Regions from separate parts of the Homo sapiens genome. Here regions 1, 2, 3, 5 and 6 are each linked to region 4. The links come from fine-mapping of genetic effects on gene expression. A gene starts in region 4. Each other region holds a variant in brackets. All regions are shown on one strand. Distances are between the middles of the regions.

Region 1 (4,082 bases), 42 kb after region 4:
AAGTGGAATCTGCCTAAACACATTGAGTGAGCACTGAAGCCCACCTTAGTGTGCTGTATAAGCTGGTTGGATAGTTAGTGGTTTCCCCATAATATTAAAAAAGAGAGACAGGGCCTAAGCACTCTCTCAGAAGGCACAGCTTGCAAACATCATCCAGTGAGTGGGGTTAGAGGTATCAGTCGGGTCACGGTATTAGTTGGCTTTGACAATTCAAAATGCAGCAAGCAAGCTGCAAGTCCAAGCTTTGCTGTGGGCAGGAATAACACCTGCCCACTAAACAGAAAATTCTGCATGGACCATAGGAGACAACTCTGGATCCTTCAGAGAAATCCTAGGTTGAAGGAAAAACAAGAGCGTTAGACATGTTCTTAAATATTTCTTTTTGCAAACATCCCACTCAAAAGCTACAGGGTCTACACTTAATATTTTCTCCAAACTGAAGGCTAATGAGTTTAATTAAGAATGTGTGACTCTACCAAATAAACATCTGCCTGATATAATCTCGTTCATTAAATCATCTTAATGGCCGTAACAGCTAACAGTAAGTACATATTTTGTGCTGCTCTAAGTTATTTATGTACATTATTTATCCTCACAATAACCAGTATATGAGGTACTACTCCTACCATTTTACAGAGTAAGAATCTGCAGCCTACATAGTTCATTTGCCCGAGGACTAATATATAAGCTATTAAGCAGCAAAACTGGGAATGGAACCCAAGCCCAGCTGAATGCAGAACTCATGCTCCTACCACCACCGCCCCTCTCAACACTCAATGTTTACTAAAAGCCGACTCAGCACAAGGCACTGTCATTTTTCGGAAGATGAGAAGAACAGGAGACAGAAGGCCACAAATACACTAAGTCTGACCTTTGTCTTCTAGAAGAAAAACTAGTTACAGAGATAAGACAATATGTGAAGTAAATACAGTAAATCATACTAAGTGTCAATATTTTTGTAGCATTAATAAGTTCAAAGGAAAAAGTATTATATTTGGCTGTGTTAGCCAGAGAAAGTTTCAAAGAGGAGGTGAGATTTAGGCTAGACTTTGAAGAATGGGTAAGATTTTGACTACTGAAAATAATGGCCATAATAAGTAGGTGCTAAATCAGTGGTTCTCATGTGGAGATGACTTTGCCTCCTCACCCACCATGGGACATTTGGCAATGTCTAGAAGCACTTTTACTTATCACAACTGGGGGAAGGATGCTCCCAGCATCGATGGGGTAAAGGCCAGGAAGGCTGCTCATCATACAGTGCACATGGCAGCTCCTACAACAAAGCATTATCTGAACCAACATGTCAGTAGTGTGCCAAGGTTGAGAAATCCTGTACTAAATAATAGTCTTTTTGGATTATGTTGTTGATCACAGTAATAAAATTACATTATCTTCTTCAAAGAATATGTTACTTTTATTATAAACATCACTATCAAAAAATCTGAGGTTGTATATTCATTGTTGTATAAAAGAAATACATGGCAGGCACCTGGATCTGTGGGCTTGGAGACTGCCAATGTCTGAAGAGAGTTCAGACCTGGCATTGCCAGGCTGGAAGTAGTTATCATACAGAGAGCAGAGCTGAGCAGTGGAAGGAGACCAAGCTGCAAAGAGGCAGGAGAAGCAGGTGCAGAAACGAACAGAACTTAAGAGCAGAACTTAAGATAGAGCATTGAAAAAAATAAAGATGTAGTGGAATAGGCAAACAACAGTAAGCCACTGCAGATAAGGAAAAGAATTAAAGAGGAAGAAGAACGAGAATAATGTAGCATCATAACACCAGGAAGGCATTTCCAGATAGAGGAAGTGACCAGGAGAGAGTAAAGTGAAAATGCCATTGCCTGATCCAATTGAGGGTCATTCATTATCTCGACTTCTCTGAACTACTAACATTTTTGAGAATCTAATTAGAACCATATATTCTCTCCCCCAGAAAAATACACATATGTACCTACACAAAAGATTGCATCAACAATACCGGGAACTTTATTAGACCATTTAGGAAGTCCACAGATGACAAGGTCAACAATCCCTGCTCTAAAGCTTATTGGTGAAATATTAGACTGGTTTTTAAAAAACGTCTTTCTTTCTTTCCAAGGTAGAGCTGTCAATACAGAAAGGTATTATTTCCGCATGTCTTTCAAAAATGACAGCAACAAAAGTTGTAACTGATACAAAACAATGTAGCCTTCAAAAATAACTTATGCTTGGTTTTGATTCATGGACATACAGAAATATTTAGACACAAAAAACTCAAACCCCCATCTTGTCTCAATTAGACAGCCCAGCCTGGAAGACAGAAGCAACGAGGAAAGAAAAGAGAGTTTAGATAATTCATTCAAGGATAAGTAAGAAGAATATACTGAAATCTAATTTTCCAGAAAAGAATTTATCCATAAGGATTAGGCTTTTGATCTCTGCCTATT[G/T]CTGATGTCTCAAATAGTAATTATGCTCATATCCCAGTGATAAAACAATCATGTCAAACCAGACTCACTTCAGCTGCCACATGAGCCTTATATAACAAGACCAGGTTTCAGCCCGTTTTCTACAGTAACAACTATAACCACTTGTTAATGATTTAACAATGACAATGTGCTGCCAAAACATTATTTCAATTGAGCCTCATAATAAATTAATAAATCTGTGAAGTAGATGTAACTTTTATCCTCATTTTCAGAGGAGAAAACTTGAATTCATAGAGAATGGGTGGTTTTCCTGGGTCAGAGGAATGATAACTCCCATCAGGACTAACCACAAATCTCACGGTCTTTCCATTGACCCACTTGGCTCCTTCAGAGGAAGGCACAGCAGGCTTTTACCAGAAGAGCCTGGGACAATCAGCAGTCCCAGCATTAAATAGTCCTCTTTGTCCTAAATAGCCCCCAAAATATGCTGTATGATATGACTTCCAGGATCCTTAGGCACGAGCTGTTGATCTAGAAAGCTTCACTAATTAGGGCTGGCCTACACAGAAAAGGAACCTAACTATTCCATAAGCATACTCCCAGCACTGTTGAACTTGGTTTCACAAATTCATTTACACTTGTTTTTAATTTGCTTCGCAAGTATTCTTAAGGTATTTTCCCCCATGTGTCCTGTCTGTCCAAGAACACAGGGACCATGTGGGTCTGTGTTCACAGCTCTACCCTTAGCACCCAAGACAATGCTGAGTAAATGGTTCAATAACCATCTGGTGAATGAACTCAAGGGCAAGGACCTGGCCTTGTAATTTTTATGTCACTTCTGACTACAAATGTACTATCCTGGGAATTCAAACAAATGCTACTGACTAGATGCAGAAAGGAATTACATTTAGTAAGAACAGAGAGTAAGTACAATTAGTACCTTTTTTCCCCTCTTTCTTCCCTTCAGACCACTTCAATCTTGTTGGTGTCATCGTGACAGCTGGAGAGCCAGAAAATAACTGTAATAAGAAAATTGTACAGTGGTTTCAATGTTCTAATGCCATTCCTATAGACAGACTTTACTAACAAATGAATTATTTGTTCAATTTCAATGTGAAGAGTTTTTCTGAGACTGATGTATTTATATCTCATTAATCTTAACTGATTTACTGCTGGCTTAATGAAGTAGGCATGCCTAGGATATCTTGAACCACCACCCCACAGGTAATATAGAGCCTAGGAGGCCTGGCTCAAATGTCACCTGTGGAATCTTCCAGTAAGAACTAATTGCTTCCTCCAGCACTTGTTTAAGGAGCTACTGTACTGTACTACTCATCTGCTTGTGACTAGTGATATCATTCTTGAATTCAAAATGTGTTTGTTTGTTGAATGAGTCAATGAAAACCAACAGAAAGAAGGTAGCATAAATGAAAGGATTGAGAAAAAGCCATTTGAATGGCCCAAAGAAACACAGTAAAACAGATGACAGTATATCAATTTTCCTCTTTTCTACAAATATATACAGACAGACAGACAGTCCAAAGAACAGTGTCTTACTAAGTTCCTATTTTCTTTGCTGGTTCCCTTCAATTCACCAATGGCCACAGATTCTGGAGTAGGGTTCTTCTTTTTCTTTTCTGACATCATCTGATTTCCCAGGACCTTCCGCTGATTTAA
Region 2 (4,086 bases), 21 kb after region 4:
GCCCCAAGGCACCGTGCTGTATAATCACTTCCTAGTGACCGTTTGCAAACCTCTTTGTGATCCAGGGATGTGTCTGTGGAACATACTCTGTCCCCAGCAGGGCCCTATACAGCTCCTACCCACCTCTCTTGTGCAGAGGCACTGTTTCTTCAGGGAAGAAGGGCCAAGAAGCTGCCACATCGGATCACTGCCACAAACACTGGCTCCGTTCCCGCCCCCATCACCACTGCCCTGGCCTGAGCTCAAGCCCCCATGGGACCCCAGTGCCAGCCCATCTGGCTACCCGGCCTCCAGGGTCTCCCTTCCAACATGAGACAGCCAGAGGGGCTGCCTGGAGCACATGCCACTCCTCCATTTGAGCACCTTCAATGGCTCCCTGGATCTGCACCATCCGGCCAGTCCCCTAATGTTGCCACAAGGCCCTTGTGATGTGGCCCTTGCCTAACATTTCCAACTGTATGTTCTCAGCCAGCCAACTATATGCACAGAGTTTGCCTGGAACATGATACATGTTTGTCAAACACGTGTCCCCTTCTGCATTAATTTACTATGTGCCAGGCTCTGTGTGTGGCTCTGGGATGCAGTGGTAAGCCACACGGACATAGTCTCTGCCCTCAGAGAGTTCACAGTCTAGTACAGGAGGCAGACTGCAATGAAACAAAAGCAATCACAAGAGCTTATCAGGGCAGGGTGTGGTGGCTCATTCCTATAATCCCAGCACTTTGGGATGCTGAGGCAATCGGATCGCTTGAGCCCAGAATTCAAGACCAGCCTGGGAAACATAATGAAACACCCTCTCTACTAAAAATACAAAAATTAGCCGGGCGTGGTGTCATGTGCCTGTAGTCCCAGCTACTTGGGAGGATGAGGTGGGAGGATCACTTGAGCCTGGGAGGCCAAGCTGCAGTAAGCTGTGTTCATGCCACTGCACTCCAGCCTCAACAGAGTGAGACCCTGTCTCAAAAAAATAATTAATTAAAAAAAGAGTTTATAGTTACAAATTATAGTGAGAGCTATGAAGGACCCATCCATGAAGGATGGAGAGTATTAGAGAAGTGTGACTTTGCCTGGGAGTCAGCAGCTCCCCTGAGATGACACCAACCTGACATCAGATGAATGAGTAGTCACCATCCAGGTGAGGGGTTTGGGGGTGGAGGGAGAGTGTCCCTGATGCTGAGGCCAGAGAGCACCCACAGGCTCTGGGATCTGGAAGCCTGGGGGCAGGTGGGCCCTAGGGATCCCAGGGCTGTGAGTGGAGATGCAGATGGGGCATGATCCCCCTGAACCGAGGAGGGATGGGAATGAAAACAGGGAAGCCTGGTGAGTGATGCTGGGGGTTTGGACTGATGTCATCACAGTAGAAATGCCAAGTCAAAGGGGACTTTTTAATTGAACTTTTTTATTATGGAATTTTAAAAAATAAATAAATGTAGACAGAACAGTACCATGAACTCCTGAACCCCTCATCCAGCAGCATCCACAACAGCTGACCCACAGCCAAGCTTTTCTCAGCTATACCCCACCCACGCTCCTTACCCCAAATGTATGATGCCGAAACAAATCCCAGATTTGTTTGCTGTGTAGTTCACCCATGGATATTTCAGTATGTATCTCTACAACAAAAGGACTGTTTTTAACATAACCGCATTATCACACCTAAAAAATAAATGATAACACAAGGGGAAATGTCTGAGGCTTGATATTTATTGCCAAACTACCCAGAAAAGCCCCCCGCCGACCCCAAGCAGGTGTGAGGGTCCCCATCTCACTACACACTTGCCAACACTGGGAGTTACAAGAGATGGATTTCTACAAGAGGCTCACCCCAAAACCGAGGAGCTAACCCTTAAATTCCAGGTTCACTTAATTAAAATGAGGCAGCCACAGAAACACTTTCTGTGGAAATCTCTCTCACACATCCAATGGCCACTTGTGAGCGGCCAGCGATTGGGGGTTGTAGAGACAGGAGGTGGTGAGCCCAGCAACCCCTGCCAGCTCCCCAGGGTGGGCCCAGTACCGGTTCATGGAGTACCCTGCCGGCTCCCCAGGGTGGGCCAAGTGTGGGTTCACAGAGCACCCTGCTGGCTCCCCAGGGCGGGCCAAGTGCGGGTTCATGGAGCAGGGCCCCTGCCCATCCTTCATCTCCCACATCTGCCCTCAGCCAATGGGGCAGACTGAGAAAGGGTTTCCTTAGGACCCAAGGGTTTCCAGAAACAACCCACCAGAGCCAGAGAGGGAAGGACCAGCAGGTGCTCCCTCCTATGGCAAGCACATGCCCCTTCAGAGCTCAAAGGGTTTCTGTTTGAGCTGAAACCTAGGGACTCACTGCCTT[G/A]CCTCTCCTCAGACCTGTGCCCCCCCTACAGTGACTCATGGGCGTCCCATTCAGTCAGGAACCTAGAATATTAAAAGATCTACAAGCCAGATAGGTGAGTTTTCAGGTTCAGAAAGCAGTTTCATCTTTCTAGTAAGATGGAGGCAGCCACAGTTCCAGAACTCTCTGCGCAGTTCCCTAACCTTTCTGAGCCGTGGTCTTTACCTAATCAGGTTTGACTTCCTGCTACAGTCTCCTACTCTCAGTCCAGAATAGAGGCGGCAACCAGGCATGGTGGTACGTGCCTGTGGTCCCAGCTACTCAGAAGGCTGAGGTGGGAGGATCGCCTGAGCCCTGGGAGTTCAAGGTTGTAGTGAGCTGTCATCGCACCACTGCACTCCAGCCCAGGTGAGAACCTATCTCTAAAAAAATTAAAAATAGAGACAGCTGTCCTTCCTGCAAGCCAGCCAGCCAGACACTGAGTCTTTGCTGTGTTCCAGGCACCCTGCTAAGCCAGGGAGATGCAAGGGTGAATAGGAACTGATCCCTTCCCTGCAGGAGCTCACCATCTCTAAGAAAAGCAGTCACATAAACACTGTGCAACGTGACCAGGGCTCCAGAAGAGATGCGTTCATGCTGCTGTGGGAATTCAGCTAGTGGAGCCAAGAGCTCTGCCTGGAGAGAGAAGGCTTCTAGGGGGCGGGATCTTAAAAGCTGGGGCTTGAATGACACTGGGGAAAGTCAAGGTGGGGGAAATCATCTCCTGGACAGGACATGAACTAACACTCTTTGGATTCAAGCAGCAGAACATCTTTTCATACACTTACTGGACATTTGTACGTCTTATTTGAAGTAATGTCTATTCATATCCTTGCCCATTTTTAAATTGGGTTATTTGTTTTTTTTTATTGTTGAGTTGTAAGAATTCTTGGCCAAGCTCAGTGGCTCATGCCTGTAATCCCAACACTTTGGGAGGCTAAGTCAGGAGGATGGCTTGAGCCCATGAGCCCAGGAACGTGAGACCAGCCTGGATAAGACAGCGAGATCCCATCTCTACAAAAAATTAGCTAGGTATGGTGGTACACATCTGTAGTGCCAGCTAATGGGGAGGCTGAGGTGGGAGGATTGCTTGAGCCCAGGAGGTTGAGGCTGCAGTGAGCTGTGATCACATCACTGCACAACAGCCTGGGAAACAGAGCAAGACCCTGTCTCAAAAAAAAAAAAATTCTTTATATATCCTAGACACTACTCCCTTGTCAGATATATAAGTTGCAAATATTTTCTTCCATTTTGTGAGTCTCAATATCCTTTCATACCTTTTGAATCTGGTGCCATATACATATACTAGCTATTCAGATATCATAGGTAATTCAACATTTTCTGGAGCCACAATAAGAAAGTAAAAAGACAGCTGGGCGCGGTGGCTCATGCCTGTAATCCCAGCACTTTGGGAGGCCAAGGCGGGTGGATTGCTTGAGGTCAAAAGTTTGAGACCAGCCTGGCCAACATGGTGAATCCCCATCTCTACTAAAAATACAAAATCAGCCTGGTGTGGTGGCGGGTGCCTGTAATCCCAGTCACTCAGGAGGCTGAGGCAGGAGAATCTCTTGAACCCGGGAGGTGGAGGTTGTTGCAGTGAGCCAAGATCGTGCCACTGCACTCCGGCCTGGGCGACAGAGCAAGACAGAAGCTATATTATGTAGAATTCCATGACAGTGAATGAGGTATTCCATGGACACAGATGGTTGCACTGGCAGAAGTATTTTGGGAAGAGA
Region 3 (4,086 bases), 66 kb before region 4:
TATTTGCTTGGAAAATTTGCTCCAAACATACTCTCCATGTCGATATTTGCTTGATGTTTGCTTGCATTTAGCTAGCATAATAAAGGTGTTTGTCTTCATGTTAACAACTAAAAAAAGGAATATGACTATTCAAGGTTATAAATCCACAAGGGTGTGGATTTCCAGGAACAACCCTTGAGGCTCTATAGCATACTACTGCCACCTGGTGACAGTGTACCAGGGGTAAATTGGAAGGGTAGAATTTGAGAGTATATAAATAATCTCTTCGGTTGCTGAGTCTGAAAAAGTCCATGAGGCTTGGGCCATGCAAGTGACGCACATGCAAGTCACTCAGTTACCAGCAACTATTTTGAAAAATCAGTGAACTAAGATCCACTTCTGGCTCTCCCTGAGGACAACTCATTTCCGAGTTACAACCTGAGTTCCTTCTCTGTGAATGGAGGGGCCTAAAAGACCTCTGAAGTCACTGCCGGCTCTTATATTTGAATGTTCTGTAAATGTGTCTCAGAATGAAAGCTCAATGAATACATTTCAGAAACCCCAGGGGGATCTGTCAAAATGCAGAGTTCTGGTTCCAGCCTCAGATTCTCAATAAGAAGGTCAGGGGTAAGGCTCTGAAATCTACATTTTTTAATAAACAGCTTCCTCATTCTCTAGTGTTTGAGCATGGCTATTCCAAATCTTTGCATTTACTATTTAAGATTCTACTTTATTAAATTGAGACGTTCTGAGGTGTCTGGCCCCATCACAGTACGCTCACATTTCCTGAGGGCCTGAATATCACATAATACTCAGTGCAGCTTTACAAGGACTATATGGTATAAGAAGGTTTTAGGCCCATTTTGCTGATGGGGAAATTGAGACTCAAAAAGGTGACACGAGCAGCCCGAGGTCACAGGCTGCGTAAGCTGGAGCTGGGTTTGAACCCTCAGTTTTGGGATGCCCATGAACTTCCCAAAGAACTCAGGGCCTTCAGGACTTTGTCCTCCACTTCTTGGCGCAGCAGGACTTGGGGCACTGACCTAGCCATGGAGTTAGAGCCCACTCCCCACTTTTAAGGGCTTTCTGCAGGCTTCGGGCACACTCCAGACTCCAGCCCATGCATCTCTTGGCCTCCCTTGGCATCTTCTGTGCCACCCATCAAAGCGCTCCTCTATCTCCAAAATGGCCGTCGCAGGTTCTGACCTTCAATAGAAAAGGCGAAGGTATGACCAAACCTGTTCTCACCTCTTCTGCCCAGGAGAACACACATTATTAAGGGGGAAGGAAACATGGCTCATCTTTCCTGTAACTGCTGCTTCCACTTAAAAGACATACCGAATGATTCAAACCCAACTCTGTCACACACTAGCCACGTAACCTTGGGCAAGTTACTTAACCTCTCTGAACTATACATAATTTCCTCACCAGAAAAAATGGGGATAAAAGAATCCTCTCTTATAGGATTGCTGTGGGGATTAAATGAGACAGTACATATAAAATGTTAGCCATGACGACTGGGATATAGTAAGTGCCCAATAAATTATAGCTAAAAAACAAAAGGCATACACACACATGCACAACATATGGCTTGGAGAGAAACGGAAATACATCCCTGCTCTGACATGTCTGTTTCACTCAGGCATGCACAACGTGACCCCGAAGCTGGAAGTTTCCACGCAGCCCAGCAGCGATGGGCCATTCAGGCAGGCACTGCCTGGGGTCTCTTGTGTTCCCCTGGAGGGGCAGTGTTCTAGCTTGGGAAACGGGTGTCTGGCTAAAGTCAAAATTAGGAAGAATTCTCCGTCCTCACCACCCCTCTTACCTTCCTGTAAACCCATGGGAAACTCCTCAGGGAACCCCACCCTCACAGGAAGGTCAGGGGTCAACTCATCGCCATCCTATTGGCTGGCACAGAAATGGTGGGCAGATCCCCCTTCCCCGATCCTCCCAGGTGGGAAGTGGGTTTATTTCTCTTTTAATGGAAAGGGGCGGGGGAAGCTAGTGGGTCTGGCCAGCCTGGCTGCTGCCTCCGTGTTCTTCAATTACAGGGACAAAATGATTTGATGCAGGAACCAAGCAGACATCTGGGTTCCAGTTAGCATCTGACATGGGGCCTTGCTAATTAATCTGGAAACATGAATTCACAATGGCTCAAATCCGAGCGCAGTCAGGGAGAAAGCCAGCTGATGGGCCGTGAACAGAAGGTGGGTTGCGACGGGGCGGTGCGAGGAGGTCATCGGGAGGGTCTGGGAGGACTCAGGAGACGGCGCCTTGGGTTCACCCATCCTCCCTGGCTTTGCATCTGACCCCCAG[A/G]GACAGGCAGGAGGTGGCTCAGCAGCGGTGGGGAGGGTCCCGGTGGACGCCCACTCTGTGTTGGCAGCCAGCGAGGAAGACAAAGGGACTCAAACATTTCACCCCATCAGCTAGATCAGTCCCTTCGTTCTCACCTGGAGCAAATATGCCCAATGTTGGCAGATTGGCCCATCTTCCTGGGGCTTCCAATTCTTCCTCACTTAGTCTTGAAAGTTTAGGAGGAAATACATATTTTTTTTCCAAAGGGGTATATATATATATATATATATATATATATATATGTATATGTATATAGATTCAAAAGTACTTATCCATTTAACAAACATTTATCTGTCAGTTACCTTCTAGTTGAGCCTTTATTGGGCACCATCCATAGAGCTAAGAGTTTTACAACATTATGACATTTAATCCTTATGAATACCCAAAGAAGTTTTAGCTCCATTTTACAGTTTAGCAAAACAGGACTCAGAGAGGTTAAACTAGTTGCCTAGGACTGCACAGCTAGTAAGGTGCAGGGTCAGATTCAGCCCAGGGTTGGGCAAGAAGACAGTGTGCCAGGCCCGCTCCCCACAGCCACTTCCCTGTGACTGCTGAGCTCATCCCCAGCTGCCCAAATGAGACCCAAATGGCTTTGGGGCTCTGTGAGAAAGGAGGGGCCGCAAGTGAGCAGACCCCACCCTCCTTTCCAATGTCTGCTTTACATCTCCGGTGCCCTGTGAGATTTACTTGAATACACAGGACTGTTGTCTGAAAAGTGTGTGTCCTCCTGATTCAAATCCACTGCTCCCATTTCACAGTTAAAGAAACAAAACTCCGGGCAGGCTCAAGGACTTGTGTCGGGGTACTGGAGCCGAAACGCAGTTTCCTGACTCGCAATGCTGCTTCACACCGTGTGCACGGGCGGCTCTGAGCGGCGGCGCAGTCCTTCCTGGCTCCACATTTTCACAGGCTTTGCATCCTGCTGAGGGTGCAGGCTAAGTCACCCACCCTCTCTGTGCCTCCTCCTAGGATGTTGATGATGCTAAGCGGCCGACACCTCCGGAAGAGTTCAGCACAGTGCTTGGCACACAGCAAGTGCTCAGTAAATATTAGCTATTCTCATCACTTTGCCTCATTGCTCCATGGTAGTAAGACAAAGGCCCCTATCACCCACTGGACTCTGACTCTCTCTCCCTACCCTACGGGAGAAGCTGCCTGAAATGAGAGCCGATCCAAATAAAATGCTTACAATGGTTCCTGCCACATAGAAGGGTTCATTCAAGCTTGGCTAATATTGTCATGACTATTACTATATTACCTGGACCGCCTTCTCTCTCCCGGTTCTGTCCCACCAAAACTATTAGATGTCAAGACGGTCTCCCTGGCCTGGAAGTGCCAGCATCTCACACCTCTCTCCAGGCTGACAGTTGGCACTACTTTGCATTCTCTCCTTCTGTAGACCTATTCATTGCTCCCCAGTTTCCTTTGGCTTCTGAAAATTAATTATCAGTGATTTGTTAAGTTCATTAGCTCTGCCTCTCAACAGCATGGAAGGCCTGCCATCTGGACCCACATTTTCACTTTTATGCACATTGTTCCATAATTACACAATAAGTGGTGTCACCCTGAGAAGCCACGCTGAAGGCAGTCGGCTTACCCCCTCCCTTCTGCAGACTTGGGAAATCTCTCACCAGGACGAGCTGATCTGTCTACTCTGCTCTTAGAGCTGCCATCCCTTCAAACATGTGCAGAGCCCCACCAGCTTTCCCTTCTTAAACACAAATGCACCCCGACTATGCACCAGGGCCTGTG
Region 4 (4,086 bases):
GAGAAACTCCAGTGGACAAGGCAAGGGGAGCAGGGAGCAGGTACAGAGGGGACAGGCATGGAGGGTGACCAGGCCACTGCGGGGGTCCTCTGGACAGATTTCTGACCCTCAGATCCTCTCTGGGTCCACACAGGATAATGCACACGCTGCCCACAGAAACTCAGTTTGGTACCACCTCTCCCCAGCCCTGTAACACACAAGCATTCACACACACACATACACATGCACCACACACACACACACACACACACACACACACACACACACACTTCCCATCTAGATTGCATCTAGATTGCAAATTCTCTAAAACCTCCACGGGAATTTTTCAGATGCAGCCAAGAAGAGTCTGGGGCAAATGTGTGCTCACTAATTGCTGGCCTTGGTACAGAGTCTGATTCGGGAGACAGCTCTCCTCAGGGTCAGATTTCTGTCTCTGACCAGCTGGGGGCCATGAAAATGTGCTCGAAAGTTATCAAAATATGCACACCTTTCCTGAGAGCCACTGCAGTCACCGAGGAGTGTGGGAAGGAGGAGTAGGTAGGTTTCAAAGGAGCCAGCAGCCTTCTCCAAAGCCCTGTTCAAAAATCTCCTGGTGTAGTCACCTCTGCGAGCAGTACAAAGGCCCTGCATGTGACCAAAATCTACACACACACAGCCCATTACGGGGACTCTCATGGCCTCACGCTATTAAGGTGGCCCCTTAATACTAGGAATTCACACAGAAACACATTCTGCAGGAGAGTCACAGAAAACAAAGTATAAAGGTCTGTAAATACACACACTCAAACACACCCAAACACACACACACACATTCTACTAGCTTACTGGGTCTAGAAAAGAAAAGGATCAAGTTTCCTCAAGAATTCACAAGTGAGACAGAACAGGGGAAGAGAAATGCTATTTTTTTATTACTTGTCATGGTCAATATCTTTAACCTTGGGCCCCCCTCTCCAAGCTCCTGACTTCTTGGCATTATCCACCGGGTTCTCCATCCAAGACACACCTGCCCCTTTTCGGGTGCTGAATGTTACATACCCCAAGCCCCATACCCAAAGCCCTCAGGTCCCATTGTCTGCCTGTGTTGGGGATGGCTGGGTGTGGAGGGAGGCGGGTGAGTAGGGGACCAACGCGTGGCACCTGCAGGGGAAGAATTCTCAAGGCTCTGGGGCAAACAATGGAGAAGAAGGGGCAGACCAGAAACTTCGCCTCCATCCCACCCTGCTGCCCTTCGTCAGGAGCAAGCTCTGGGAGCGGGAATCTGCGCAGCTGGCTCAGAACGCGGCCGTAGCCCCATGTGCCCAAAAGGAGACATTGTGCTTGGCGAGTGTGGGAAGTGTCCCTCCTGGGTGCAAGGAAGGCTTTCTGACACCAGTTCGCAGGCACCCTGGAGGAATAAAGCGCTGGCGCAGTGAGGAGGGCCTGAGGGTGCGGAGTGCAGGGTGCAGGGTGCAGGTGTGAGGACGGAAGCTGACAACCCCGCCGAGGGCCCTTTGAATCCCAGGGATGGGGAAACCACGGCGCTCCTGGCTCCTGGCTCGGGAAAGACCCCGGCAGGCACTGACCCGTCTGTGGGCTGCGGAGCCCGGACGGGCCCCAATGGTCCTGCCCCCACCCCCAAGTCCGGAATTGCGTCTGGGTGGGAGGGCAACCTCGGAGCCAGGGAGCCAGGGGCGGGGACCATACTCACAGGCGCTCGGTGTTCCGAGGTATATTCTTGGGAATGGCCTGCAGCCCCGTGCCGTGGCAGTCCACCGTGGTTCCGGTGCAGGTGCAGAGGGCGGGGCACGCCGAGGCACCCAGGCGCCACGCGGCTGCCCACAGCAGCAGCCAGAGCTCCGGCCGGACCGGCCCCGCCGAGGACCCCCACCCGGGAGTCAGCGCCATGGTGCCCTCACAGCGTCCCGCTCGCGAGCCAGACGGCAGCAGCCGCTGACCATCCCCGTCCGGGGCCGCCTCCAGGTGCAGTCCCGGGGCAGAGCCACCGAAGAGCCCGCGGGCTTGCGCGCGGCGCCCCTGCGGGCTGGGAGGCACCTTGCTCCTCCAAGCGACGGCGCCTGTGCGCGGACGGAGGGAGGGCGCCTTGGGCGGAGGGGGCTCGGCTCCTCTGCCGTTTCGCCGCCTGCGTCTCCCTCTCCCTCCCTCCAGCTCCCAACTGACTGCTGCGAGGAGGAAAATGGGCAGGCCCCGCGCGCGCACGCACCCTGCGCACACACCACACACACACACACGATCACACACACACCCGCGCGCTCGCTCCCACCCGGCAGTCATCCATCAATCGAAAAGCACACATCCAGGGCCAGGCTCCTCCCCGCCCTCCCCCGCCGCAGCCCCCCTCTCCCGACGACCACTCAGCGGCTGCAAGCCGCCTACAGTTTCAAAGGTGGAACCTCCGAGGCGCCGTCAGCGGGCACGGGGCTGCGGGGGATGGGAGAAGAGGGAAGGGGGTGTGACTCGACCCGCCAAGTCCTGGCTGTACACACACACACACACACACACACACACACACACACACACACACGGCGAGGATGCGCACATTTAGACGCACGCACCCCGGCACCCGCGGCCCCAGCTGCTAGTCCAGGGTGGGAGGGAGATCTTATTTTGCCGCTTGGACGCCTTCCCGGGGAGTCAGACCCGTTTCCCCCCATCCCCCGACGGCAGCAGCGGCCTCTCGGCCCCACCCGACTCGCTGTGTCAATTCTTGGTTAAGGGAAACCCTGTGCCTGTGCCCCAGGTAGCATCCTCAAGCCACCAACCTTACTTAGCCTGGACTTTGAGGATGGAGCTTTGTCGGGGGGGAGGGTCCACGAAAGCGCTAGGCGGAGTACAGTCTCCTTCCTACCTCAATGCACCCACTTCTCAGAGGGGAACAAGCTAGCCGCATGCCCAGGATGAGAATGGCTCTGATTGGAACACTTGCTCAGCAGGGCGTATTTGTACCATACAGTTACACGGGCTTCTTCCCCCGTTGTAGAAGAGAGGGACAGACATTAAGGGGACTTGGAAATCTGGCAAACGTCTTCCTCCACTCACACCAGCGTTCCTCCATTTCTGACAGGTGGAAACAGATGAAAATGAATATTCCATCTTGACATCAAAGGAGACAGAGAGGGCTGGCATAGCGCTGGGCGGCCTGCTTGGGAGAGAACCCCACAGGCCAGCCCCGTCAGACCCAGGCCTCACACCCGGCTGGGTAGGGACCTTCGTCACCGTAAGGCATGTGTGGACGTGGGTGTGAACGGGACATCCAGGTGGGGAGAGAATTCTCCTCAACCCCAGAAAAGACGAAAGATCTCCTCAACGCCAAGGACAGCTGTGGCTCGCTGGGGCAGTGTCCAGCAGTCGGGGCCTTGACGTGAGGCTGCTTGGCAAGAGGACACAGCTGGGTAGCCCGAGAAGCACCTCCCGTCTCAGGAGCGGCCTGGGTCCAGACACAGCATGGACGCATTTGGTGGGGAGAGTGTCGGGCAGGGTGGGGATAGGGGAGGTTGATAGACTCCACAAGGTTGAAGCCTTATCACCCACCAGGTACCCAAGGCTCAGGCGTTTTCTTTGCTTTTCTTTTCCATGTTGATGAGAATTTTGCAGTCTCTCTACTGTCATAGCACAGTATGTTACAATTTAGGTGGCTGATTTTATGGGCTTTTGACAGTTCTTTTAAAGTTTTCACACATCCCTGTCCATGACCTCCATCCGGTAAGTGGGTTCTTGAGCATAAGTTCAGTTTCTCAGGGGGCAGGGCTTTCTCAGGGGTGCCTGTGTGGTGGGATATTAGGGAAGCTTCCCACAAACCAGGCCGGAGTCTGAGAGGGCTGCCCCTGCCCTGCAGCTCACCAGCTCCTGCTCCATGGGGCCCCAGCCCCTCTATCCATGCTCTCCCCGCAGCCTCAGAGTGACATTCCTCCATGCCCGCTGCTTTGTTTATCCCCTCTTAGTACCTGCAGCTGCTTCTCCACACCCCTGCCCACCCCCTGGCATCCTCACTCGCTCACCCAGACACACACCCCAGCACCTGGCACTTAGTAGGCCTGTCACAGACAGCACTCAGGCTGTTGAAGATGTCTCCAGCCTTCTGCTCCAGCA
Region 5 (4,086 bases), 71 kb after region 4:
CACATCAAAACACACTATCAACAAAGTAAAAAGGCAACCCACAGAATAGGAGAAAATATTTGTCCATATAGCTGATAAAGGATGATATCTGGAATATAAAGGGATATCCATCAACTGATGAACAGATAAGCAAAATGTGGTATATACACACAGTGGAATACTACGCACCCTTAAAAAGGAAGGAAATCCTGTCACATGCTACTGTGTGGATGAACCTTGAGCACACTATGCTAAGTATAAATAAGGCAGTCACAGAAAGACAAATACCGTATGAGTCCACTTACATGAGGTACTCAGAGTAGTCAAATTCATAGAGATGGAAGGTAGAATGGTGGTTGCCAAGGATGGGAGGAGGGTTTTACGGAGTTACTGTTTAATGGGTACAGAGTTTCAATTTTGCAAGATGAAGAGTTCTGGAAATGGATGGCGATGATGGCTACACAACAACGTGAATGTACTTAATGCCACAGAACTGTACGCTTAAAAATGGTTAAGATGGCAAATTTTATAAGCATTTTACTGCAAGAAAAAAAGAAACCAGAACTGGATGATCTTGGAAACTTTCAGCCTCTCCAGATGGCAAAAGATGCTAAAATTGGCACACGCCTGTAATCCCAGCACTTTGGGAGGCTGTGGCAGAAGGATTGAACCCAGGAGTTCAAGACCAGCCTGGGCAACACGTTGAAACCCTGTCTCTACAAAAAAATACAAAAAATCAGCCAGGCGTGGCAGTGTATGCCTGTGGTCCCAGCTACTGGGGAGGCTGAGGCGGGAGCATCACTTGATCCCAGAAGGTTGAGGCTGCAGTGAGCCAAGACTGTACCAATGCACTCCAGCCTGGGCGACAGAGTGAGACCTTGTCTGAAAAAAAAAGATGCTAAAATTAAGAGATTCACTATCAAGGAAGTATACACTAAAGAAAAGGTCAAGGATGTGACTGTGCTACGTTTTGCTAAAACCTTAGAAACATCAAAAGGTCAGAGTATTCAATCATACAAAGGGCCCTTTCAAGAGAGTAAGAGCGTACCTCACAGATCCTCTCAATTAAACCAGAAAGCCTTTAGGAAGCTTAAAGGTACTGTCCCTTAGGTTTCTCAGCAGGTGACCAAGGTAGGGAAAGATTTATCTTCAAAAGATTTGTATATGTGGCCTTTGTCTAATAGAATGAATCTCAATGAAATCCACAGAAGACCTACAAAGTTCTTAGAAAATTATGTCAGCAGAAATACAGCCTGTTTGGATTGAAAGGGCCAAAGAGTACAAAATGACCCCCAAAATTCTACTGGCAGACCCCCAAAACTCTACTGGCAGTAAGCAGGCAGGATAAAACTACCTAGCTGCCACGTGTGCTGCCTTTGTGAAAAAGGAAGAATGGCTCAGAGGGTGGAGTCAGTTACCCAGAGGACCCAGCCCTACTCAGCCTCCTATTCCTACTCCTTTCCACCATAGTGGTTGTTACCCCCTGGGTTTTGCCACTGTCCATTCTGGTTTGCAATCCCATTCAGGACCTTTTTCTCGTTTAGTTATCTTTATAGCCCCACTTAGGATCCCACCTTGCTCCATTTTCTTTGTCCTGTTACCAGCCAAATGCTATCCCTTACCTACCTTAAAAAGTTTCTGGGAGTGTTTAATCATAAAAGCCATCCCACTGTTTAACTTTGTGATATTCTCCTGAAGGTCATTTGCAGTGACCTATTCAGAGGAAAAGAAACCAAACAATGGACATTAAGAGCTAGAAAGTAGTACTTACCAATAAGCCTGTTCTTTCAAATGTATGAAGTTTCTATCCCTAGCCTAGGTGCCTCTAATACAATGTTTAATTCTGGGAAGACTTTTTGGTTCATCAGGATATGACATAATCTAGAAAAACAATGTGTCCCTGAAGTGACGAGGAAATCCTTGAAAACCATTTTCATTTCCTAATTCTGCTTGAAAATTAGACATGTAAACAAAATTGGCAAGGAAAATCTAGTCTAGGATTCAAAATGGGCAGAAAAAAACAGAATCTGTTCCAGCTATCAAGGACACCACTGCCTCTTTAGAAAACTAGAGTTTCTCCAAAGACAAAAAAGAATGGTCACTACTGATACCAAAGGTGACATCTGTTTCTTAAAAACACAGTAAAATTACCGGGCGTGGTGGCTCATGCCTGTAATCCCAGCACTTTGGGAGGCCAAGGCGGGCAGATCACGAGGTCAGGAGATTGAGACCATCCTGGCTAACACAGTGAAACACCGTCTCTACCAAAAATACAAAAAATTAGCCGGGCGTGGTGGCGGGCGCCTGTAG[T/C]CCCAGCTACTCGGGAGGCTGAGGCAGGAGAATGGCATGAACCCGGGAGGCAGAGCTTGCAGTGAGCCGAGACCGCACCACTGCACTCCAGCCTGGGCGACAAAGCAAGACTCTGTCTCAAAAAAACAAACAAACAAACAAACAAAAAACACAGCAAAATTGTCATTGATTCCCTTCCCTTGTTTCTCCTGTCTTTTTTAAGTAATTCAGTAACTCTACTATCCCAAAGCCCTCATTTTCAACATGTATCTTTGTTACTTTATCTGTTTGCTTTTAAATACTTTTTTTTTTTTTTTTTTTTTTAGAGATAGGGTCTCGCTTTGTTACCCAGATTGGAGTACAGTGGTGCAATCATAACTCACTGCAGCTGCAAACTCCTTGGCTCAAGCGATCCTCCCACCTCAGCCTCCCAAGTAGCTAGGAGTATAGGCATGTGCCACCACGTCCAGCTTATTTTTCTTTTCCTTTTGTAGAGACAAGGTCTCAAGGTCTCAAGGTCTCACTGTGTTGCCCAGGCTGGTCTCAACCTCCTGTCCTCAAGCAGTCCTCCTACCTCAGCCTCCCAAAGTGCTGTGATTACAGGCGTAAGTCACTACTTCTTTTTATAACCACAGTTTGCTCACTGCTTTTCTATAGTCTTGGTTAGCTGGTTCTAAAATTCCTTCATTATAAGGCTTGATCTCCTTAATATGGACAAATGTTGATGTGTCTTCTGCTCCCCCTACTCACCCCCAGAGGCTCTTCCTGACCCAGAACTTTATTATTTTTTCACTAGTTATTTTTTAAGTAAAATGTTTCACACAATCTCTCTCCTTTACCTTCCTTTTCTCATTACTTATAATCTCAAAAATTTTTTATAAATTACTATAACCTATTTCTATTATCTTCCCAACAGCCTTGTGGGGTATGTAGTAAAGCTATTACAGTAAGTCCTCACTTAAGGCATCAATAGGTTCTTGGAAACTATGACGTTAAGTGAACCGACATACAGCAGGTCCTCGAATAACATCATTTTCTTCAACATCTTTTCATTATAACATTGATGAGAAAAATAATTTGTTTTGTTATAGATTATTTTGATTAAAGTTTCAGTTTCCAAGAACCTATCAACGATGTTAATAGGTTGAGGACTTACTGTATTATGCCCAGTTTACAGAGGAAAAGCCTATGCATAGAAAAGGCAAAAGACTAAACAAACAAAAAATGGCTTGTAGACAGCTGTTTAAAACATGAAAGGTAAAAGGCCAGGCGCGGTGGCTCACACCTGTAATCCCAGCACTTCGAGAGGCAGCAGCGGGTGGATCACCTGAGGTCAGCAGTTCGAGACCCGCCTGACCAACATGGCAAAACCCCATCTCTACTAAAAATACAAAAATACAAATATTAGCCAGGAATAGTGGCTCACGCCTGTAGTCCCAGCTGCTCAGGAGGCTGAAGCAGGAGAATTGCTTGAACCTGGGAGGCAGAGATTGCACTGAGCTGAGATTGCACCACTGCTCTCCAGCCTAGGCAACAGAGGAAGACTCTGTCTCAAAAAAAAAAGGTAAAAGACATAGGTAACATCGCTGGTGTGTGGCTTCCAACCCACCTATCCTGGCTCACAACTCCATCACATAGTAAAACCATATTATAAGTGGGCAGGAATATGAGCTATGTACCTCCAGGTCAACAAGTTGTTTAAAAGACTTTAGATGAGGCTACAGTGAGTAGTGATTGTGTTACTCTCCTCCAGCGTGGGCAACAAAACGAGACCCTGTCTCAAAAAAACAGAAAAAAAGACTTCAGAGAATTTATTTC
Region 6 (4,086 bases), 120 kb after region 4:
TCTCCATCAGCAAGAAGGCTCCCACCAGATGCAGCCCCTTGACCTTGAACTTCTCAGCCTCCATAATTGTAAGAAATAAATTTATTTTCTTTATAAATTACCCGGTTTCAGGAACTCTGCTATAAGCAACAGAGAACAAACTAAGACCCTAACCCAGGCCTCAGGTCAGAAGGCCACAGGGGCTGGTGGGAAGTTTCAAAGCAGTAACACATTTGTGATAGTCAAGAGCAAGCCAGTACATTGTGAGCCCACTACGTTGGATGTTGCCTCCATGGTCTTGTGAACTGATGCACAGATCCCTTTTTCCTACCACTGTAACCCATTTTCATGGAGTTTGTTTTGGTATGAAGAGAAATTTTGCACATAAAGTCTCTATAGTGATTAGGAAGTAGGATGAAGGTCAGGAAAGGCACTAATATTTCCCCACCTCTCTGTCCTCTAGATATGGAGGCTTCAGAGTCAGCTTCAAAGATTCCCCCATTCAAAATCAGAAAGTAAGGCCAGGCATGGTGGTTCACACCTGTAATCCCAGCACTTTGGGAGGCCGAGGCAGGTGGATCACTTGAGCTCAGGAGTTCAAGACCAGCCTGGGCAACATGGCAAACCCTGTCTCTACAAAAAACAGAATTTTTATTTATTTATTTCATTTTTCTTTTTTCTTTTTTGAGACAGAGTCTTGCTCTGTCACTCAGGCTGGAGTGCAGTGGCACGATCTCAGTTCACTGCAACTTCCACCTCCTGGGTTCAAGCAATTCTCATGCCTCAGTCTCCTGAGTAGCTGAGATTACAGGAGTGCACCACCACACCCAGCTAATTTTTTGTATTTTTAGTAGAGATGGGGCTTCACCGGCCTGGCGTGGTGGCTCACACCTGTAATCCCAGTGAGTCGGGCAGATCACAAGGTCAGGAGATCGAGACCATCCTGGCTAACACAGTGAAACCCCATCTCTACTAAAAAATACAAAAAATTAGCTGGGCATGGTGGCGGGCACCTGTAGTCCCAGCTACTCGGGAGGCTGAGGCAGGAGAATGGCATGAACCCGGGAGGTGGAGCTTGCAGTGAGCTGAGATGGCGCCACTGCATTCCAGCCTGGGCAACAGAACAAGACTTTGTCTCAAAAAAAAAAAAAAAGAGATGGGGTTTCACCATGTGGCCCAGGCTGGTTTTGAACTCCTGACCTCAGGCAATCTGCCCGCCTCAGGCAATCAGTCATGAGCCATTGCGCTGGGCCTAATTTATGTGGGTGTTTTTTTTTTTGAGATGGAGTCTCGCTCTGTTGCCCAGGCTGGAGTGCAGTGGCGAGATCTCAGCTCACTGCAACCTCCGCCTCCCAAGTTCAAAGCGATTCTCCTGCCTCAGCCTCCCAAGTAGCTGGGACTACAGGCGCCCACCACCACACCGGCTAATTTTTTGTATTTTTAGTAGAGACGGAGTTTCACCATGTTAGCCAGGATGGTCTCGATCTCCTGACCTCGTGATCTGCCAGCCTCGGCCTCCCAAAGTGTTGGGATTACAGGCATGAGCCAACACCCCTGGCCTAATTTTTGTATTTTTAATGGAGACGGGGTTTCACCATGTTGGCCAGGCTGGTTTCGAACTCTTGAGCTCAGGTGATCTGCCCACCTCGGCCTCCCAAAGTGCTGGGATTACAGGCGGGAGCCGCTACGTCCAGCCAAAAAAAGTGCAAAACCTAGCTGGGTGCTATGGCTTGCACCTGCAGTACCAGCTACTCTCAAGGCTGAGGCAGGAGAATTGCTTGAGCCGTGGAGGTGGAGGTTTTAGTGAGCTGAGATCACACCATTGCACTCCAGCCTGGGTGACAGGAGTGAAACCCTGTCTAAAAAAAAAAAAAAAAAAAAAAAATCAGAAATAAAGGAAATTGTCCTTCAGCTCCTTAGGCTTACACATCCCCATCCAGGGATCTAGTCATTCCCATCCATAGGACTTACCTTCTTTCAGAGTTATCAAAAGAGCT[G/C]CTTTTGTTCATTCACTTACACTTTAATGTGAATTAAATACAAAACTACCTCTTCTGAAATATGTGAATTTATTTGTTTATTTATTTATTTATTTTGAGATGGAGTCTCACTCTGTCCCCAAGGCTGGAGTGCAGTAGCACAATCTTGGCTCACTGCAACCTCCACCTCCTGGGCTCAAGGGATCCTCCTGCCTCAGCCTCCCAAGTAGCTGAGATTACAGGCACTTGCCACCATGCCTGGCTAATTTTTATATTTTTAGTAGAGATGGAGTTTCACCATGTTGGTCAGGCTGGTCTCAAACTCCTGACCTCGGGTGATCCACCAGCCTCAGCCTCCCAAAGTGTTGGGATTACAGGCGTGAGCCACCACCCCCGGCCTGGAATAAGGACCGCTTCCAATTGTGAAAGAAAATGCTTGTTGCCCAGTTAACATAATTCCACATAATCATTTTGATTAGGAAACCTAAACAACTTCTGGAGAACTCAAGAACTCTGTCCCAGGCTGCCATTTCACATTTGCTGCATTTCTAGATGTGTTTATATGATTGCTTGAGTGGTGTTGTCTTCTACTGGAGTGTAGCTTCATGACTTAAGAATCTTTCGGCCAGGCACAGTGGCTCCCGCCTGTAATCCCAGGACTTTGGGGGGCCAAGGTGGGCAGATCACCTGAGGTCAGGAGTTAGAAACCAGCCTGACCAATGTGCCATCTCTACTAAATATACAAAAATTAGCCGGGCGTGGTGGCATGAGCCTGGAATCCCAGCTACCTGAGAAGCTGAGACAGGAGAATTGCTTGAACCCGGGAGGCAGAGGTGGTGGTGAGCTGAGATCGCGCCATTGTACTCCAGCCTGGGCAACAAGAGCGAAACTTCATCTCAAAAAAAAAAAAAGGATCTTTTTTATTTTAAGGCTGGTCAAGTGACACATTTGGCTTTACTTAGCCAACTATTTGTTGAATGAATAAAGGAACAAATGAATCAAACCAAAGATTCCTGGCCGGGCGCGGTGGTTCATGCCTGTAATCCCAGCACTTTGGGAGGCTGATGCGGGCAGATCACAAGGTCAGGAGTTCAAGACCAGCCTGGCCAATATGGTGAAACCCCATATCTACTAAAAATACAATTTGCCAGGCGTAGTGGCAGGTGCCTGTAGTTCCAGCTACTTGGGAGGGTGAGGCAGGAGAATTGCATGAACCCGGGAGGCAGAGGTTGCAGTGAGCCGAGATCACACCACTGCACTCCAGCCTGGGCTACAGAACCAGATTCTGTCTCAAAAAAAAAAAAAAAATGCATAGAAACAATGAGATTATTTAGATCTTATGGAAAAAACACATCCTGCCTATATTGGACATAGGATTTTGTTCTGATGCATGCAGCATCTCTGTAGAGGTTCTCTGCTCCTTTATGCTCCTTTATCCTCAGTCCATGTGTTTTAAGTGGCATTGATCCCATTTCTGGCTACAGGAGTGGGCAAGCGACACAGGCCTGGCAAATCAGAGGAACCTAACCTCTAGATTCATGGATCTGACAGTCTAGACCAGCCCAACTCACTATAGAAAGGAGGTATGTGGTAAGGGCTCACTTGGAGGAACCAAAGAGAGTGGGAAGAAGGAGAGTGGGAGGAACCACTGACTCTTGGTGAGAGCAGAGATAGCTGCATGAGGAGGTTTGTAGCTGGACTAAGATTTAGATGGGTGGAATTCAGGGAGTGCATTCTCTACACAAAGAGCAGGAACAAACATGGGGTGATAGGAACATGTAAGATGTTTTTGAAAGCTGGCAAGGGCCCAGTTGACACGAACAAAAGGTTTATGTGGAGGTGGAGGACAAGATAAAGTTGGAGGAGTGGACCAGGGCAAGCCCCCCTGAGAGTTCTGGACACTGTGTTAAGGAGTGGAAGAGTTTACTCCAGAGGCCATGTGGACCTGTTCAGAGGGGAGGCCGTGGGTAACCTGAGCAGGGTTGGGCATTAGGAAGTTGATCTGTCAGAAGAGTGGATTAAAGGGAAAGAGGCCGGGGTTCTGACCCAAGATGCATGAACCTGGCCAAAAAAACATTAAGGGCATCGGGCAGTAGGACCGAAATAGAACCACCAGCTGAGGCACTGAAGA

Alleles and levels. Positions count from the first base shown, and alleles are read on the strand shown. Sizes are in standard deviations (SD) of each study's normalised expression. Not every link is listed here.
For the expression in subcutaneous fat of the gene that starts at base 2,169 in region 4, allele G in region 1 goes with a lower level than allele T (moderate effect, 0.49 SD a copy in GTEx).

What was found. PIP is the estimated chance that this variant, and not a neighbour inherited with it, causes the effect. A credible set is the group of variants that fine-mapping cannot tell apart.
Region 1: its variant is the best candidate, but not a certain one, in a credible set for the expression of SLIT1 in subcutaneous fat (GTEx, PIP 0.70).
Region 2: its variant is the best candidate, but not a certain one, in a credible set for the expression of SLIT1 in whole blood (INTERVAL, PIP 0.52).
Region 3: its variant is the best candidate, but not a certain one, in a credible set for the expression of SLIT1 in thyroid (GTEx, PIP 0.79).
Region 5: its variant is the best candidate, but not a certain one, in a credible set for the expression of SLIT1 in whole blood (TOPMed, PIP 0.56).
Region 6: its variant is the best candidate, but not a certain one, in a credible set for the expression of SLIT1 in whole blood (INTERVAL, PIP 0.51).

The regions. Positions count from the first base shown.
Region 1 is chr10:97,225,802-97,229,883 of GRCh38, forward strand. It overlaps ARHGAP19 (Rho GTPase activating protein 19), which reads right to left. Exons shown (of 12, transcript NM_032900.6): 10 at 3,963-4,073; 11 at 3,346-3,424; 12 at 1-331. The coding sequence ends at 321. It overlaps ARHGAP19-SLIT1 (ARHGAP19-SLIT1 readthrough (NMD candidate)), which reads right to left. Exons shown (of 15, transcript NR_037909.1): 10 at 3,963-4,073; 11 at 3,346-3,424. All of the region lies in intron 2 of LOC105378447 (a long non-coding RNA gene), which reads left to right. Among named protein-coding and RNA genes, the nearest start is that of SLIT1, 42 kb to the left of the region's middle. The variant G/T (reference allele first, on the strand shown) is at 2,427.
Region 2 is chr10:97,205,227-97,209,312 of GRCh38, forward strand. All of the region lies in intron 11 of ARHGAP19-SLIT1 (ARHGAP19-SLIT1 readthrough (NMD candidate)), which reads right to left. Among named protein-coding and RNA genes, the nearest start is that of SLIT1, 21 kb to the left of the region's middle. The variant G/A (reference allele first, on the strand shown) is at 2,333.
Region 3 is chr10:97,117,371-97,121,456 of GRCh38, forward strand. The region is part of intron 4 of SLIT1 (slit guidance ligand 1); the gene reads right to left. Among named protein-coding and RNA genes, the nearest start is that of SLIT1-AS1, 17 kb to the left of the region's middle. The variant A/G (reference allele first, on the strand shown) is at 2,296.
Region 4 is chr10:97,183,791-97,187,876 of GRCh38, forward strand. It overlaps SLIT1 (slit guidance ligand 1), which reads right to left and starts at 2,169. Exons shown (of 37, transcript NM_003061.3): 1 at 1,688-2,169. The coding sequence starts at 1,884. The region is part of intron 11 of ARHGAP19-SLIT1 (ARHGAP19-SLIT1 readthrough (NMD candidate)); the gene reads right to left. RefSeq lists enhancers at 2,013-2,513, 2,514-3,014.
Region 5 is chr10:97,254,713-97,258,798 of GRCh38, forward strand. It overlaps ARHGAP19 (Rho GTPase activating protein 19), which reads right to left. Exons shown (of 12, transcript NM_032900.6): 6 at 1,606-1,692. ARHGAP19-SLIT1 (ARHGAP19-SLIT1 readthrough (NMD candidate)) reads right to left here. Exons shown (of 15, transcript NR_037909.1): 6 at 1,606-1,692. Among named protein-coding and RNA genes, the nearest start is that of ARHGAP19, 36 kb to the right of the region's middle. The variant T/C (reference allele first, on the strand shown) is at 2,290.
Region 6 is chr10:97,304,082-97,308,167 of GRCh38, forward strand. No RefSeq gene overlaps it. Among named protein-coding and RNA genes, the nearest start is that of FRAT1, 13 kb to the right of the region's middle. The variant G/C (reference allele first, on the strand shown) is at 1,977.